Linked DNA regions of Homo sapiens. The protein of the gene in region 1 purifies or fractionates together with the protein of each later gene. This does not show direct contact. Each region holds a gene or a part of one and is shown in the gene's direction. Other genes may lie near its edges.

What was found. Proteins that work in one complex are often made in the same cells at the same time.
Region 2: the proteins of KRT17 (region 1) and DLAT purify together in Homo sapiens (affinity purification with mass spectrometry, with the first as the bait; one large-scale study listed by BioGRID). This does not show direct contact.

What each region holds. Positions count from the first base shown.
Region 1 is NC_000017.11:41,621,776-41,625,787, reverse strand, and holds the start of KRT17 (keratin, type I cytoskeletal 17), read left to right. Parts: upstream 1-1,212; 5' UTR 1,213-1,278; coding exon 1,279-1,710; intron 1,711-2,755; coding exon 2,756-2,838; intron 2,839-3,276; coding exon 3,277-3,433; intron 3,434-4,012. UniProt on the Homo sapiens protein: Type I keratin involved in the formation and maintenance of various skin appendages, specifically in determining shape and orientation of hair. Required for the correct growth of hair follicles, in particular for the persistence of the anagen (growth) state.
Region 2 is NC_000011.10:112,038,908-112,042,407, forward strand, and holds part of DLAT (dihydrolipoyllysine-residue acetyltransferase component of pyruvate dehydrogenase complex, mitochondrial isoform 2 precursor), read left to right. Parts: intron 1-336; coding exon 337-490; intron 491-3,500.

The sequences.
Region 1 (4,012 bases):
CACTGGGCTATTGAGGAATGTCTCTCGGCTGCTGGCGGGGCCGTCTGGGCCTGTCTGGGAAGTGGAAGCCATCGGCAGTCTGAAACATGACCACATTCCACCCAGCGGGCCTGGCGGGACCCTGGGACCCAGGGCCGGGCTTGGGGTGGTGGGCAGGGCAGGGTGGGGCTGTGGGGTGGGGCACATGGCCCACCTGAGGAGCCACATCTTGGGGAGCCTGGAGTGGGAAGGGGGCTGGCTGGGGTCTCTGTAAGAGCCTCTTCTTGGGCAATGTCCTTTAGGTTTCCTGTGGGCTGAGACCTGAGATAAATACCCGTCACCTGACCCTGAGGTCTCTTGGGGTACAGAAGGGTGAGGGGAGTGGAAGGGGGCATCCCCCTCTCAGTTGGCACAGCCCACCATTTCCCCATCCTATAGCTGAGCCCCTGTTTGCCCACCCCAGCCTGGAGTGTAAACCTGGGGAAAGGTTTACACGAAGAGACTGGGTTAGCAAGGATTTCTAGGGATGGGGCAGGGTCAGAAGCTGACTGGATGGAACTGTAGCCCCTAGAGTGCATTCCTGGGTGTCAGGCTCTGCAGAAGGGGCCAGTGTGGACACGGCACCCCTCTGGAGCCCCAATTTCTTTATCTGTGATGTGGGTTGGTCTCCGAGGCTTGATGGCATTTCTATGCTGTGAGGTGGGCCTGGTGGGTTTGGGCTCAGTTTCCAAGGCAGGATAGGCTCTCGGTCTCCTCTTTCTCTTCAGCACCCAGCCCCGGGGCCAGCACCGTGGGTGGAGCAGTGTGGGGTGAAAGACAGCAACTTTGGCGGGGGGGTCAGCTGACACTGCAACCCATTTCCCCACCAGACAGGGTTGAGGCGGGCCAGGCTGGGGTGGTGGCTGCCTGGGAGGGCCTGGGGACGGTGACGTCCTGCCTTCTCCTCTTCTCCGTATTAGGTCATGGGAAAGCATAGCTGGAGGGCCCGCCTGAATCACAGGTGACGGGCCTGAGACCAGAGGCACGCACACGCACGGCACTCAGCACGAGGATTTGGAGAAATGAGGCAAATTCCTGATGATGGGCGGGGAGGGGGCCCCCAGCCACCTGGGAGCTGGCAGGTGGCCAGTGGTGATGAAAGCCCAGGGGAATGGAAACAGAGGAGCAAGCCTGTTGTAATCGCTACGCCCACTTGGTGGCCTATAAAGGAAGCGGGCGAACCCCGGCAGCCCTACACAACTTGGGGCCCCTCTCCTCTCCAGCCCTTCTCCTGTGTGCCTGCCTCCTGCCGCCGCCACCATGACCACCTCCATCCGCCAGTTCACCTCCTCCAGCTCCATCAAGGGCTCCTCCGGCCTGGGGGGCGGCTCGTCCCGCACCTCCTGCCGGCTGTCTGGCGGCCTGGGTGCCGGCTCCTGCAGGCTGGGATCTGCTGGCGGCCTGGGCAGCACCCTCGGGGGTAGCAGCTACTCCAGCTGCTACAGCTTTGGCTCTGGTGGTGGCTATGGCAGCAGCTTTGGGGGTGTTGATGGGCTGCTGGCTGGAGGTGAGAAGGCCACCATGCAGAACCTCAATGACCGCCTGGCCTCCTACCTGGACAAGGTGCGTGCCCTGGAGGAGGCCAACACTGAGCTGGAGGTGAAGATCCGTGACTGGTACCAGAGGCAGGCCCCGGGGCCCGCCCGTGACTACAGCCAGTACTACAGGACAATTGAGGAGCTGCAGAACAAGGTAGGGCCTGCTGGTGGGAGGGGTCTCCGGGGGGCATGACTTCTTCCCCCCAACTCCTGCCTTGGCCAAAGGCCTGGAGTCCAGCCATAGGGTCTCAGGGAGCCAAGGGTGGTTTGGCTGTGGCTTAGCTTCTGGGAACCTGCCTTGGGGCCCCTGTGTGGCTCACATCCCCCTTTTCTGGGGACAGCAAGCTGAGTCAGGAACAAAGAGGCCTTGTGGAGCCCCTTGGAGCCTCAGTTTCTCCCTCGTGGAGCTCCGCCACCTGGAGAGGTTGTAGGATGAGGCAGGAGGATGCAGATGGAGGGCTGGGCCCGTGGGCTGCTGGATGTGTGGTGTCTTGCTCCTTTGGAGCAGGGGTCAACAGGAGGGGGTTTTGGGTGATGTGGAGTGGGGGTGTCTGAGTGAGCTCCTGATAGCACCTGCTGCAGGAGGAGGCAGAAAGGAGGGGGCGGGACCTCAGTGTGGGGAAGGCCTCTGATGTGCCTTATTTGGGGATTTTTCTGGCTTCTCCTTTCCTCCTGCTGTCCCTTAAGACGGGCTCAGCAAACCCCAGGGGGCGGGGCTGCTGGCTGGCGCCCAGGGTTAGGGATTAGGAGGGGTCCTGACTTTTGATTTGGAACCACTCTTTAATGAGGGCTCCTTTAGCCTCCTTTTGGGGGAGCCTGTCAGGGGCACCCTCTAGCTGACTGTAAAACGAGGGGGTTGCCCACATCCCCTCCCTTGTTCTAGAATTCTGGGACAGCTTCTGCCCTGGGGACATTTTCCCATTCTTTTCTGGTTGCCTCATACTCCCAGCCAGCTGTCTCTTCTCCTTTAAGGCCGAGCCTGCCATGGGGGTCTGGTGGGGTACTGAGTATCGGGGGAAGAAGAGGCACCTTTCAGCCCTTCAGACTCCTGTTTGCCCCTCCTCTGCCAATAATACAGCACGGGGCAAGGGAGGGGCTGGGCGAGAAGAGAGGCCCTGAGGCAGGAAGATCTGCTCAGAACCCTGGTGTGGGCTCAGCCACCCCCATCCAATGACCTGACTACTCTCCCTTCTCCTCAGATCCTCACAGCCACCGTGGACAATGCCAACATCCTGCTACAGATTGACAATGCCCGTCTGGCTGCTGATGACTTCCGCACCAAGTGAGTCCTAGCTGTGGCCTTGGGCAGCCTGGGCCAGCTGGCGGAGGATCTCAGGGTACCCCTCCTGACCCCAGGATTCCTTGGTTGCTTGTGGCAAGGCCCAGGAGCTCAGGGTGGGGCAGTCCTAGGAGCCCCACTCCTTAGTCCAGGATGCAGTGAAGGCAGCCAGTTCTGAAGGTTGCTGAGCTTAGGCAGGGAATAGAAGAGAAGGAGGGGAGGCGGGAGGCGGGAGGCAGAGAGAAGTAAGGAAGCTGGTGGGCGTGGGATCTGGCCCTGTGATGGTCCCGGGGTCCCGGGGCTGGAATTCGTTTCCACTCGACCCTCTCATCAGCCCTTCCAACTCCTTAGAGTCCTGGCAAAATGAAGGCAGGTGAGCAGCCAGGACCTGGATCTGCAGGTCCAAGCAGCCTGGGCTGAAGTCTCTGATTCCCACGGCAGGTTTGAGACAGAGCAGGCCCTGCGCCTGAGTGTGGAGGCCGACATCAATGGCCTGCGCAGGGTGCTGGATGAGCTGACCCTGGCCAGAGCCGACCTGGAGATGCAGATTGAGAACCTCAAGGAGGAGCTGGCCTACCTGAAGAAGAACCACGAGGAGGTGAGGTGGCTGGGGCAGAAGGTCAAAGATGCTGAGGAGTGGGTGGCAGAGCCCTGGGGCTGGGCAATGGCTGAGGCCGTGGGAGAGAGCAGAGCAGGTGCACCGGGATTAGTCACCTTAGAGGGCTTCCCTGTCTGCAGAGCCCTGATCCTTGGGGTCCAGTGTGCAGGGCAGACTCCTCTTTGTACCACACTGCTTCTCTGTACACAAGGAACCTCCCAGGGGCCTGCAGAGGCTCCCTCTACCTACCCTGCCTCCCTCATGAGGGTGGGGGATAAGTAAGGAAATCTTGTCCCATTTCAAACTCTCAAAGCTGAACATCTACATAGAAGCTTGGAAATTAGAGGGGAACTTTTGGGGGCATAGGCCTAATAATTAGATTTTATTTTGGAGAGTCCTTGGTCTAATGGGGGAGATAGAGTCTGATGGTGGAGGCAATACTGAGCAGATGAATAAAAATCATTTAGAGGGTCAGATAGAGCAGAGGGAGAACAAAGGAGGGGTCCTTGTGGGAAGTGGGGTCCCCTTGTGGGGGAAGGCTTGGGAGTGAGAGGTCAGGATGGGTCCAGATGCGCACAT
Region 2 (3,500 bases), on another chromosome or scaffold:
TAAAAGAATGCGAATAAAGAAGTGGTAAGAGATTAAAGTGAAGAAAGGCTGTAGAATACTATACACTGATTGGCAATATTCAATTCTGTGCTTCATGTTGTTATGGAATAAGGTAACTGTTCTGTCTTTGATATAGAAGTATATTGTTCTCGCTGTTCGTATTACTACATTATGTTGGTTAAGCTGGCGAAAAGTACATTATGATCTTTGGAAAAATGAAAGTTATTAATATTTAATTAAAATAGTTTTAATTTATTAATAAGATGTAAACTTTTAATCTTTCAGACCAGTCTTTGAAGTGGTGAATTAAAACAATTTGTAATTTTTTTTCAAAAGGTGGCCGCTGTTCCTCCAACTCCCCAGCCTTTAGCTCCTACACCTTCAGCACCCTGCCCAGCTACTCCTGCTGGACCAAAGGGAAGGGTGTTTGTTAGCCCTCTTGCAAAGAAGTTGGCAGTAGAGAAAGGGATTGATCTTACACAAGTAAAAGGTAAATCTGTTTCTATAGAATGGACTTTATAAAGTTAAAATTTAGTTGAATTTCCTCCTTAAGACTTGCAAGTACAACTATGTATAGCCGTACTTATAATTGGGATAGTAGGGACAATCATTAATAATTCCTTCAGAAGGGAGAAATAGTTCTTTTGTTGCCACCACAGAGTAGGGAAACTTTTACTGAGCTTTATTTACTCTGCCTAGAATCTACCCATACACTTTAGATACCTTTTTTTTTCCTCTTCTATTCATGGAAACTGCTTGTTTGGTGAAAGTATATGTAAAATTTGGTTATGGGACTTGATTATGTAATAAGAAACCTCTGTTAGTGCTTGGTTGACTGTAGCAATAAGCAAAGCAAAATAAAATTTGAAGTTGGGGTGATTTGGAATGACTTAATAAAATTCATATAAAACAGAACTAGAGCTCCCTGAAGGCAAGGGAAAACGCCTTACTTGTCTGTCTGCCGCCAAAGAAAAAATATAGCTTTGTGATAAGAGCATGGGGCCTGGAATCAGACCACCTAGCATTTAATCCTGGCTTTATAATTTTCTATGTAATATGTTTTCCAGTGAATTACTTAGATTGTATGTCCTTATGTCAATTACTTTTCTATCTGTAAAACTGAGGTACTGTACATCGTATAGATTGTGAGAGTTAAATGAGCTATAACAGGTGAAGTGCTTAGAACTGTATCTAGCATATAAGTACTCAATACATGTTAGTTGTCATTCATATTGATATTACTGCCTGGTGCTTAAATAAGTTTTTTTGAATTAAACTTAAGCTAAAATTTAGTGTAGGATAACTAAGGTACTTATTTGGAATGGGGGGAAGTTATTATGCTTGGAACTTGGTTTGATGGCTTGTACTATGTGTCAGTCATTTAACTTACCATACTTAATGTACACAACACTTCTTGAAGTAAGAATTATCATTCCTTATTTTCTGGATAAGAAAACAGACTCTCAGACTCTTCAGGGTTCTTCCTTCCTGTTAAATAGTAAAGTTGCAGTGTAACTCTAGATTTGTTTAACTCTAAAGCCTGTTTCTTCACACTACCCTATCCTGCCTTCTGTTTTGATGCTCTGCCATCCATAATTACTAAAGAAAAATATGCTTATTTCCCCAATTTTCTAGTTATGGGTACTCAATGGTGGTTATCCCGTATCTGCAATTTGCTATCTTGTAGTTAGAAGTCAAGCCAATCCCAAGACACAAGAGTAGAATGTTGTAAATTTTTTGGACCTCAGAGATTCTTGTAATATTGGAAGATTCTTTTTTTTCCATCTTAATGCCATTTCAGTAGTATATTGCTATCATATATGTATATATGATTAGAATCAGGGACAGCAGTGTAAGTTGGAGTAACTTTTAAAGGGAGAAAGGACTGGGTTAATAATTATATCTAAAGAATTTAGACAAGCAAAGAAGGACCATTTATTAGATATTCAGCAATACTCGTTACCTTACTAAAGATATAAGTGGAAAATCCCTTAGGTATGAGCTGAGAGGAGTGTTAAAAAAAAAAAAGAAAGAAAGAAAATCCCACTGTTCTTACTATGCAGGCAGAGTTAGGTGATAAATATCATCGACTGCTATCTACACATCAGACACTTGTTCATCAGATGGATAAGATTTCAGTTTCAGTTGCTTATATGACCAACAATAAAGAATTAAATGAACAGAAAGGGAGTATAGCATAGTAGTTAAGAGTGTGAGCTCTGTAGCTGGAATGCTTGGGTATGAACCTCAGCTCTTTATACTAGCTGTGTGACCTTTTGTGTCACAATTTCTTTGTATATAAAAACATTAGGTTTAATGGTTGTGAGGTTTAAATAAGTTAACCAGTGCCTGTACAGAGAAAGCATATCTAGGTATTAGCTATAATGATAATAATATTTTTGTTATTAAATAAGATGATTTGAGTGCTAAGAAAGAAAGAAACTCAGTGATATACTAGTGAGTGAAAGGGTGAATGGATATATGTGCAGTCATGACTACTTTTAGACAGGTTGGTTGGGAGATCTTTTTGATGAGGTGACATTTGATTTGTTTTGAAAGATAAGAAGGAGGCAGCTTGAGCCAACCATGTGAAGAACTGGGGAAAGATCATTTTGGATAGAGAGACTAGCTGTACACAGTCTGAAATGGGAAAGAGTTTAGCATGTCTGAGGAACATAAAAGAGGCCAGTGTTGGCCAGGCGCAATGGCTCACGCCTGTAATCCCAGCACTTTGGGAGGCCGAGGCAGGTGGATCACAGGTCAGGAGATGGAGACCATCCTGGCTAACACGGTGAAACCTCGTCTCTACTAAAAATACAAAAAAATTAGCTGGGCATGGTGGCAGGCGCCTGTGGTCCCAGCTACTCGGGAGGCTGAGGCAGGAGAATGGCGTGAACCTGGGAGGCCAAACTTGCAGTGAGCCGAGATAGTGCCACTGCACTCCAGCCTGGGCGACAGAGCAAGACTCCGTCTCAAAGAAAAAAAAAAAAGGCCAGTGTTAATGAAGCATAATGAGCAAAGGGTCTAGTAGGAGATGAGATTGGAAAAAAACAGGGATGAGAACATAAATGACCTTATAGATTATGGTAAAGAGTTTGAATTTTATTTAAAGTACTTGAGGAAGCCATTGAGAAATTTAAGCAAAGAAGTGAAATAAAATGATTATGTTTTGAAAAGATCATTTTGGTTGCTCCATGGAAATGGATGAAACGTTTATATAGTTTATGTTTGACAAGATCCCTACTTTTTGTTACCCATAGTCCAGTGTTGTTCCCTTTATACCATATTGCTTTATGATGGCCTGTTGTGCCGCCCAAGAGAGATAGGGAAAAGGGTTTACAAGGTTTCAACTAACTCCTAAGTCAGGAAATTCTTGTGGGTGGCTGAAGCTTAGCATAAGGCAGGTGGTACTATGGATTTCCTCCTCTTGAGGGACTGTGGTGTCTAGATCAGCCTTGGTTGTAAGGGGAGGTTATGGTTTCTGTCTTTTACAAAGGAGA